Linked DNA regions of Homo sapiens: region 2 is linked to region 1. Evidence: fine-mapped expression QTL. A gene starts in region 1. The other region holds a variant in brackets. All regions are shown on one strand. Distances are from middle to middle. Region 1 holds the start of PHACTR1 (phosphatase and actin regulator 1). Region 2 overlaps PHACTR1 (phosphatase and actin regulator 1).

What was found. PIP is the estimated chance that this variant, and not a neighbour inherited with it, causes the effect.
Region 2: its variant is fine-mapped to the expression of PHACTR1 in whole blood (TOPMed, PIP above 0.99).

The regions. Positions count from the first base shown.
Region 1 is chr6:12,714,140-12,719,519 of GRCh38, forward strand. PHACTR1 (phosphatase and actin regulator 1) reads left to right here and starts at 2,628. Exons shown (of 15, transcript NM_030948.6): 1 at 2,628-2,757; 2 at 3,370-3,604; 3 at 4,560-4,708. The coding sequence starts at 4,606. All of the region lies in intron 1 of LOC107984015 (a long non-coding RNA gene), which reads right to left.
Region 2 is chr6:13,267,562-13,272,941 of GRCh38, forward strand. PHACTR1 (phosphatase and actin regulator 1) reads left to right here. Exons shown (of 15, transcript NM_030948.6): 11 at 5,299-5,354. It overlaps TBC1D7-LOC100130357 (TBC1D7-LOC100130357 readthrough), which reads right to left. Exons shown (of 9, transcript NM_001318809.2): 9 at 1-274. Among named protein-coding and RNA genes, the nearest start is that of TBC1D7, 58 kb to the right of the region's middle. RefSeq lists an enhancer at 4,919-5,018. The variant T/C (reference allele first, on the strand shown) is at 3,289.

The DNA.
Region 1 (5,380 bases):
CTGGTTCCAATGGAAGTCAACAGCATAATGTAAAAAGAGCAAGTTACCTACTTACAAATCATGTGATCTCTCCTGGAATGTTTGGGTCTTTTGCCATCTAACACAATAAATAAGCACACCCCCAAAATAAATACAAGCTTATATCTTTACTTGCCTCTAGATTCCATCATGAAGCATACCTCTGTTTTGAATTAATTGAATACATCTGCTTGTGTATAGAATACTCACATATGTATCCTCTTCCAACCAAACTAAAAACAAAAAAGTATGTATCTCTCTACCATCTCACATATTTTTAATAATTCTAGATTATTTGTTTCAACCTTACAGTTCTACACTTTCATATTTTAATGCCATCAATGTAAAACATATGACTTGATTTTGGAATTTTTAAAATAATATTTTATTTCTAGGTCATAGAGATATTTTAACACTGAATTAAGTTTTGCAGAGCTGAAATCTTGAGAATGTTTTGGGTTGGATTGTTCAGTGCCGAATACGTGTTAGCTTGAATACTTGATGTAACCTTGCCTTCCTCTCTGATTATTTCTCAGAACAATAGACCATTATAAGTGTTGTTTTGGAGCAGTTTAAAGTTACAAAACAGAATTGAGCTAATCAGATTTTGACATTGGCTTTTGAACATTACTATGCTTTACCATATTTAAAAATAATTTTTGAACACACACACACACACCTATATGTAATCTATAGCTATATTCCCCAGAGAGTGAGATCATTTTTTGAAAATCTATTACAGAAGTTGGTCATATGATGCTACAGAACACAGTGATAATTATTTAGTAAAAGTAAGTCCCTGTTTGCAAATGAATAATCATCCCCTTCCCAAATACATTTCTTTCTTTGTTTCTTTCTTTTTTTTTTTTGAGATAGAGTCTTGCTCTGTCACCCAGGCTGGAGTGCAATGGCATGATCTCAGCTCACTGCAACCTCCACCTCCCAGGTTCAAGCGATTCTCCTGTTCAGCCTCCCAAGTAGCTGGAATTACAGGTACCCAACACCATGCCTGGCTAATTTTTTATATTTTTAGTAGAGATGGGGTTTCACCATGTTGGCCAGGCTGGTCTTGAACTCCTAACCTCAGGTGATCCACCCACCTTGACTTCCCATAGTGCTGGGATTACAGACATGAGCCTCTGTGCCCGGCCCCAAATACATTTCTTTAAGTTGAAATTTTCCCTCCTGAGTTTTCTTAAATTACGACCCTTTCATATTATTTGTTCACTTTGTAAAGTATTTTAAATTTCTCTTTCTTGGTCAACTCTCCAGAAATGACTGACTTCCAAATCCACCACCTACCCCCTGGGAATCAACTCTATTTTTCACATTTCCAGTTTAGCATCTCTTTCTTCAATCACACATTCATTTGCACTCACCTAAAGGTTTGGTCAGCAGCATAGACTTATACTCTCTCTCTCTCTCTTTCTCTCATCTATGAGTCATTACAATTTCAGTAGAATTACAATAACGAGTTCAGAACCTGTCGCCCACACCTCACAGTAAGTAAAAGGAACCAGAAGACAGCTTTCTCCTCTTATAAATGTCAAGTGTTCAGCATGTCTCCAGTGGGTGCTGAATAGAAAAGTAACCTTAAAGAAGTCAGTCCTTGGGTTGGAGCAAAGCTTTCAGAATTCAGAGTCCATAGTTGACTTTCCTACAAGGGCATATGATTGGTAGTTTCAGCTTCCTTTTTCATGAGGCTTAACTGTCTGCAGCACCGGCTTGGTGTCTGATCTGTTCTGATCGGGTGGGAGAGGGAGACCCCACAAAACAAACAGCAGAGGATTTTCAGGTTTGTTTCAAGGGCAGCCAGCCGAGCTGTGTATAGGGAGTGGGGGGACAGGGGTGGTGTTGATGGTCTTCCTTCCGAGGCTTATCAAATGTAAATGCTCTTTTCTTAACAAGCTGACCCACTGTACACCACACCATACTAATGAGCAATTCTGCTTGGTCAACAAAGGGTGCAAGAGGTTGTGGAAAACCCACAGTAGGGCTTGCATTTGGCTATCACTATGCCCTGCATGAAGATCTCAAAGTACTGTGCCTAAAAGTCATTACTGAGGTTTGGTAGGAAGAATATTAAACCAGAATAACTTGAGATACTAGCCAAAGTTTATTTTTGTTGTTGGTATTATTTTGTTACATTCAGACAGAGAGAAATGCATTTAGGCAGACTGGCATGATCTGCGCTGGATATTTGACCAGGCAATCAGAAGCAAGGAAAGGAAGAAAGCCAGGCAAGAGGGAAGGGGTGACATCAAACGTGCCCTCTGTATTTCGCTCCAGAAAACAGCTCACAATTATGACTACCTGCCTTGTTTTGCAGCTCAGCATAAAAGTGGTGTTGCACCAAACCCTACTGGAGCAGCCTTCATGATTAGAAAGTACTCCACACCTTGGAGAGCTGAGGAGACATGAGAATAATTTTAAATGCAAATTAAATTGAGGGGGTAGCAGAGAAGAACACATAAAAGACAGTAAAACAAAACCTTTCAATTTTCTTAAATTAGCAGTCTAATGTGTTCTAAAGAGCAGCTCCACTCAGATCTCTTCTTAAGGGTTGCATTTCATCACAGTATAAATGGGCAAATCCATCACTTCCCTCTGCTCAGTGCTCTTGAAGCGAGATTGAAGGGAAAATTAGAAGCTGTTCATTTGTGCTTGCGGGCTCAGAAGCGTCGCACTGCTTTGTTTTGTACTCTACCGTGTCCTGTTGAAAGGGGTCAACAAGTGCCGGTGAGTATCCGCTAACTTCCAGACTCTTCCTTTCAAATATCTTTTTGGCTAATTTTCCTTTGCCGGGGATGGGGGTTGTGGGGGGAGTGGGGATCTCCCACAAAATCTATGCTATAATATGTCTTTCAGAATCTGGGAAATTTCAGACAGCTTTTTAAGCTTCTTCCAGTGACTGATTTGCAGAAGGGAAGAGTTATTTTCAGCCTAGATGCCGGTGGCTGTTCTGTGTATTAATTATAACAGGGGAATGTCTAACGTATGTTAAGCTAAAATGGCCTTTCCCTAAACTCCCCCATTCCCTGCCACTCTTAGGCCAGCATTAGGGTAATAACTGGTGCCCCCACAAAAATTTCTAGACAACTTTTCTATATATTAAATTTTTAATCATTTCATATTCTATTCTTTTGTAGCTGCAAATCAAACTAAGATTTGGGATTATGAAAATAAACAATGAAGACATAAATCTGTTTTGTTTTTTTTTTAATGACTATGGCACTTCTCTGCCTAAGAGATAGGGGGCTGGGGAATAGCCCTGCATGATGTATGCATGTGGATTTGATGATTTTCTGCCAAAGTTTTACACGGGAAACTGGTAATTTTCTCCCTTCGCAGGGGAGGGTGCAGAGGCTGAGGCTGGCGTCACCTTCCGTTGCTAAGGTAACGTGCTCTGGCCATTTTATCTGATAAAGGAAGTCCAGTGGACTGTATGCATTATTCATCACTGTTCTAATCAAACAATCAAAATCGTTTACTTTCACCGGGAATATTTAGCAAGATCAAAGACACTCTGGCTGGAACGGCTCTTGTTTTACCGCTGACAGATAGCCTTTGATTTTTATTTTTTGCAGTAAGTATATTTGCTATTGGGGTACCTTTGGGTATTTTTAAAAGTTTTGTCTTACCGGACTTGGTTTCTTAAATTAAAATACATACTGTTAGAAAGAGAAACCAATTGGATTAGACTTCCAAGCTTGGTTTTAATGACTTTGTCTTGTTAATTCTTTCCAAAAAAATATTCTGCAGAAATAGAGATAATTCATTTGTGTGAGTATCAGGGAAAGGCTACATAGGCTTGAAAAAAGAACCCAACAGGCTGAATGTTTTCTGGGGAAGTATATTAGCTTTGTGACAGGCTAGTGTATGATAATATAGGGATCACTGTAATGCTGCAATCATTCTTGCTGCTCTACAAACCACAATTGTTTCTCAAAAATCAGCCCCTGCCAGGCACAGGCAGGTGACGATCCTCTAGCACTTTATAAAATGTGCTGAAGGGAATCGCCGGAAAGGAAGGAATTCAAAGCATTTGTACAGCAAATATGTCAGTGTGTGTCATAAACGCACGGCATCTATGAGTGGAGGCTCGGATTCCCAGGCAATTTTCCCTGCTCCAGGGGAATCCGAAAGTCCCAGGATGAGCTGAGGATCAACACTCACAACGGCTGACACTTAATGACGCTATTTATCAAATAGACCTTTTGAAAACTGATAGCATGTGAATTTAACAGTATATGTTCCAGAGAATATAAAGCAAGGAAAGGCTGGTATGTTATCTCTCTTTAGATCAGATCATCTGTTTTTCCTGAGTAGAATATATTACTTTTAATGAATGTTGGCTAAATGCGGCATTTTCTCACACGGTAGGAAAGCTATGCTGGGGGGTGGCTTTAGAATTGCAAATGTCAATCAAGTAGTAGAATATTATAATGGGATATTCTTATTCAAACATTTTAAAGTACATCTATATATACACTTTATACTTGACGTCTAAAATATTGTGGATTTTTTTTTCCTCTTTATAGGTGTTCCAGTGTTTTCTCTCAAAACTCTGTGTTTGGAACATCAAGGATGGATTATCCCAAAATGGATTATTTTCTGGATGTAGAGTCTGCTCACAGACTCTTGGATGTTGAGTCAGCTCAAAGATTCTTCTACAGTCAAGGAGCTCAAGGTAATAAAATAAGAAAAAGAAATTCCTCTTATTTGCACGTCGGTTTTATATGAACAGCCATGTAGGCTGTAGCTGTTAAAGCCTTGCTCTGAAAGTTTAATAACCGGTATTTCTAAGTTGATAACCTCTACCAAACTGCTGCTGGAATTGAGGCAGGTATATAATAGAATAAATAAATCCACACTTCTTGGATGTGGTTAAAAAAATGCCCAACTTTTGGTGTAAGTGCCCCTCAGAAAGCTATGTTAGAAATGATTTCCTACCACCTGTGTCCAACACTTATGTCCAAAAAGAATCAAGAATGCTCTTCCCCTTGGAGAATTTCCAGTTTGCAGCCACAGCTCTTGAAATCTTAGGGCATCATGACCCAGTGGACTGGAATCCAGCAGGATTAGGGGCTCTTGAGAGAAGCGCTGAGCTTCTCTATAGCTGCCTTCTCTATTTTAGCTGAATTCAGTTACCGCCTCAGATAATTACTAGTGTACATTCAGGGAGCAAGCCTCTTGGGAAGTGTGGTTGATGTGTCCGTTTTTATTACATGTTTCAAGATGGTCAGTTAGGTTCCAGTTTTCTTGCCCTTCTGTTGGGGTATTTAGAATGTTTTTCCACCACATTAAAGAAGAAGCTGGAGTGTTATATGGGATCTCGTGACTAGGAGGAGATTTTTTTTTT
Region 2 (5,380 bases), 550 kb after region 1:
AGTCACGCCCAACTTGCTTGTTGTTTTGAGGATATTTTATTACATGCCAGTCCTTGGAAACTGTTGATCCAGTTTTACCTTGCACATTGTAATCACAGATGTGCACCTCTAGGCTGTGAGCCGCTTAAGAATGTGTCTGGCCCTTCATGTGGCCCGTGGTTCATGTTGGGTAGATTAGCAGATGAAAGACTTAGGAAAACAAAAATTGGAATTCTTATCATTTGATCTCAGCCAGCGTCTCAAACTCAGAGGCCCTCGGGGGTCCAGGAATGATCTGAAAAAAAAAAAAAAAAAAAAAAAAAAAAAAAAAAGCAGGACAGATGTGAGCGTGCTCACCTGTATTACATAAGTGAGGCCTGGGGAGAGGGCTAATTTGATCACACACTCTGTCTAAAGGCATTCAGGCTCAAAAAAAGTATAACCAGCTGGGCTCAGTGGCTCACACCTGTAATCTCAGCACTCTGGGAGGCCGAGGTGGGTGGATCACCTGAGGTCAGGAGTTTGAGACTAGCCTGGCCAACGTGGTGAAACCGCATGTCTACTAAAAATACAAAAATTAGCTGGGCGTGGTGGCACACACCTGTAATCCCAGCTACTCGGGAAGCTGAGGCAGGAGAATCGCTTGAACCTGGGAGGTGGAGGTTGCAGTGAGCTGAGATTGTGCCACTGCACTCCAGCGTGGGTGACAGGGCAAGACTCTGTCTCAAAAAAGAGAAAAAAGTGTAACCTCTGAGCATGCCAAAGAGAACTGATAGAGTCAAATCCAGTGCACCAGGCATCAGTTTGCAACCTCTGACTAGTAAAGTATCATAGTTATGGCAGACAAAATATTGGCCACCCTTCCACAAGATGTCCACATCCTCATCCCCAGATCTATGAATATGTAACGTCCCAGGGCAAAGGAGACTTTGCAACTGGAATTCAGTTAAAAATCTTAAGATAAAGATTAAATGAACTAACATATGTACAGTGCTTGGAACCATACCCTTACATTATAGGCATTAAATCAGCCTTAGCTTATTAAACTAGTATTTATGATTTGCAGAGAAAAGAGCATAGGCCTAGCAGGATCTGATACCTTGTCTGAGGTAAATAGGTTCAGAGCAGAGCCTGGACTAGAACCCAAACCTCCTAGCTCCTGAGCTACTTAGTGCTTTGTCCTTACAATGCCACCATATCATTTTCCTCCCAAATCTCATTTTCAAGGTCAAAACAACTAACTATAGCACAGGCCCTTCTGGCGGGCTCAGCTGCATGTTATAGCTATGATTAGTCTTGATGTTCTCAGTCGCTTTCCAGAGAAATGAAACACAAACAGAGGAACTCATTTGAAATTATGAGTGTTTGACTATAAAGCAGCCTAGTTAATAACAGAATTTTCTCTGATCAGAGTCTAGTCACTCAGTTTTGCCCCCTCCAAATATGACCACCCATAAAAAAAAGGGGAGGCCACCACAGAGCCAGTTGTCATGTTCACTAATGAGATCAATGGGATGGCACCGTCAAAGCTGATGAGGGAACAATGTAGTCTGCAGACACTTCGCATAAGACTCCAAAACACTGGCCTGATCTCCAAATGTAGGCGCCACCCACATTTACAAGGCTTTCTCAAAACATTCTGCCCCCAAAACTTAGCTTGACTTAAAGCCTGGGTATTACCAAACCATTCCATAAAAGTGGCTGCGCATCTCTTATAAAAGCAGCAAGTATTTTTAGGGAAAATAAACTGGCAGGTGAGAAAGAGCTGTTAAGATCTTTCAACGTGGAGTTGGTAAGCTGCATTCCAGACCTCTGACACCGGCTCACTCAGTTGCATAATCATCGCTTTCCTCCTGCAGCGTGAGAATGCTATTTTAGAAAGAATTCAAAGACTACTGCATCCAAATTTAGACCCCCTAATATTGTGAATTTCCAAATACACAGCTGGCCCTTGTCAATGGGGATGAAAAATGTCTTAATGGGATTGCAAAGAGAAAAAACAAACTTTGACTGGGAGCAGTGGCTCATGCCTGTAATCCCAGCACTTTGGGAGGCTGAAGCAGGTGGATCACCTAAGGTCAGGAGTTCAAGACCAGCCTGGCCAACATGGTGAAACCCTGTCTCTACTGAAAATACAAAAAACTAGCACGGGGCATGGTGGCACGCACCTGTAATCCCAGCTACTCAGGAGGCTGAGGCAGGAGAATCGCTTGAACCCGAGAGGCAGAGGTTGCAGTGAGCTGAGATCGCACCACTGCACTCCAGCCTGGGCAAAAAAAGCTAAACTCTGTCTCAAAAAAAGAAAAAAACAAACTTTTTTTCACTCTACTCTCACACTTAACACACTTCTGTGACCCCACACATTTCTGTGTGAGGCAGCTCCCCACACACCAAGCAATTCTCCAGCAGACATGAACTGGACATCCTGTAATTCAATTTGATTCTGACCCTTTCTACTGGGACAGTGTCAGATCACACAGGTTAAGGACTCAGTCCCACAGAACTGCCCCCACTTCAGATGCCAATACCAAGTCATAGGTTGTCACCTATATTATGACCCACTAGCTGTAAACTGGGGTTCTCACAACTCCCTCTTTGTGTTCAAATAATTTGCTAAGACAGCTCACAGAACTCAGGGAAACACTTACTTTACCAGTTTCTTACAGAGGTTACAGATGAACAGCCAGATGAAGAGATGGACAGGGCAAGGTATTGGGGGAGAGAGGCAGAGCTTCTGTGCACTCTCTGGGTGCCACCCTCCCAACAGTGCCCCCCAGCCCCATGGTCAGCAACCTGGAAGCTCATCTAATCTTGTGGTTTAAGAGTTTCCATAGAACTTCACCTCCAGCCCCCCACCCTCCTGCTTCCCAGCTGAAAGCTCCAGGCCTCTAACTATGTGTTCTTTCTGGTGGCCAGCCCCATCCTAAGTCACCTAATTAGCACAAACTCTGGTGTAATCCAAAGGGACTCATTCCAAGTAACAAAATACACTCCTGACACCCCAGAAATTCCAGGGGTTTTAGGTGCTCTGTGATAGGAACTGGGTCAAAGATAAATATGTTTTATATTATACCACAGGGATATTTTGAAAAGGAATAATAAATATGAAAATGTTCTTATACTCTTAAAAACACTTTGGAATGCAATTTCCAACAGTTTCAGGGTGCTATAGGCTTTATAAGCAGGTATATGACCAAAAATCCTTTCTCTGACATTGTATTAGGCCATTCTTGCATTACTATAAAGGAATACCTGAGACTGTGTAATTTATAAATAAAAGAGGTTTAATTGGCTCATGGTTCTGCAGGC[T/C]ATACAGGCAGCATGGCCCTGGCATTTGCTTGACTTCTAGGGAGGCCTCAGGAAACTTCCAATCATGGAGGAAGGTGAAGGAGAAGAAGGCACATCACATGGCAAAAGCAGGAGCAAGAGAGAGAGAGAGAGTGAGCAGGGAGTTGCCACATGCTTTTTTTTTTTCTTTTTTTTTTTTTGAGACAGTCTCACTTTGTCACCCAGGCTGGAGTGCAGTGGCGCAATGTCGGCTCACTGCAACCTCCACCTCCCAGGTTCAAGCGATTCTCCTGCCTCAGCCTCCCAAGTAGCTAGGATTACAGGCATGTGCCACCATGCCCGGCTAATTTTTGTATTTTTAATAGAGACGGGGTTTCGCCACAAAGTTTTAAATGACCAGATCTTGCAAGAACTCACTGTCAAGAAGCTAGGACCAAGCCATGAGGGCTCCCCATCCAAGCACCTTGCACCAGGCCTCCCCCCGAGCAATGGGGATTACCATTCAACATGAGATTTGGGCAGCGACAAATATCCAAACTATATGAGACATTGAAGCCCATTCCCTATATAGGATGTGTGGTGGTGACACGGGAATGTCACAGAAGCAATTGATTCTGGCCCAGCACAATAAACAAAAACACAAATGACAACAAGCTTTGAATTAAAAATATAGTCCTTTCTGGGAGATTGATTCCAGGACTCCCTTGGATACCAAAATCCAAGGAAGCTCAAGTCCCTTGTATAAAATGGCGTAGTATTTGCAAAAAACTATGTGTATCCTCCCATATCCTTTAAATCATCTCTAAATTACTTATATCTAATACAAGATAAATGCTATATCAATAATTTTAGACTATTGTTTTTTGTTTGTTTTTTTTTTTAATATTTTCCGTCAGCAGTTGGTAGAACCGAAGAATGTGGAACTCATGGACACAGAGGACCAACTGTAGTTAGGTTTGGAGACTTCATTGACTTGATATTTTCACTCTAGGATCTCTCTTTAGATTTCAAGATGTGAACATCTTGCCGACTATAGACACCAGTTTCTAATACCCAAGGAGGGACTGCAACTTCCTCAACTAGGAGAGCATCATTTCTACCCCTTAGATCCCAATAGAGGAGTCTGAGAAGCCTAAAATTTCTTCTACAATGATTCAGTTTCTCACACACCTCATCCCAATGGGTGAAGTGGAATGCCGGATAATTGCAGGTTGTTAAATAATTACCAAAAGCTTCAAAGGTACAGATGTCTCTGTTCCTGCTCAGGCTCCTGAGTCCGTGTCAGTCATTCCTGGGACCTAATGCAGGCATTCTCCCCTCAGATGCCATGCCCGTTCCCTGGCTACTTCTGTCACTACGTGCCATCCACTGCCTGTCCCGCCTCCACCCATTGCGTCATTGCAGGCTCATGCCCTGGCTATGATGTTTCATGTACGGTGGCTAAATTTCACGCCTGGCCACAGAAGTATCATTTCTGTGCCTTTGCCACTCATGTCTTCTAAGCCTCCGAAATAAGAGGAGCAGGACCAGAAGAAGAGCAGCCATTGTTCTCTGCAGACAGACACATTCTCTCACATGTCCCCGGGGCCACAGACCTCTTTATGTTCTAACTGGGTCTGCACAGAAGAGGCAGGAGACAGGCTTTAGCCTCAAGGGAGGGAGAGAGAGGCAAGAGGCCACAGTCCCCAAGTTAGGAGGCCACAAGGAAAGAAAAGGACTTCTGTGAAGAAAAGAGTCCCGTCTGAGTTGCAGTCCACTTGCCTGGGGCCACTGGAGGAGATGGGGCTGGGGAGGGGCCGCTGCAGGGAGGAGGGCGGGGGTCAGCGGCTGTGACATGACGCACGTGCCTCTCCTGGGCTTGAAATTGAGGAACTGAGGAGGCGGTGGTGGCGAGAGTCAGTCTTTCAGAGCACAGGATGGAACAAGAACTCCAGCCACTGACTGTCTCATGTATCTGCAAGGGCCGAGGAAATTAATGACCCAAGGAGGCTATGATATGGTCCAAAAACTTTTCCTGGATTTTTTCCGTAGGCGGCTGAGCCAGAGGCCAACTGCAGAGGAACTGGAACAGAGGAACATTTTGAAACGTAAGTGACTAAGCCCATGGCAATCC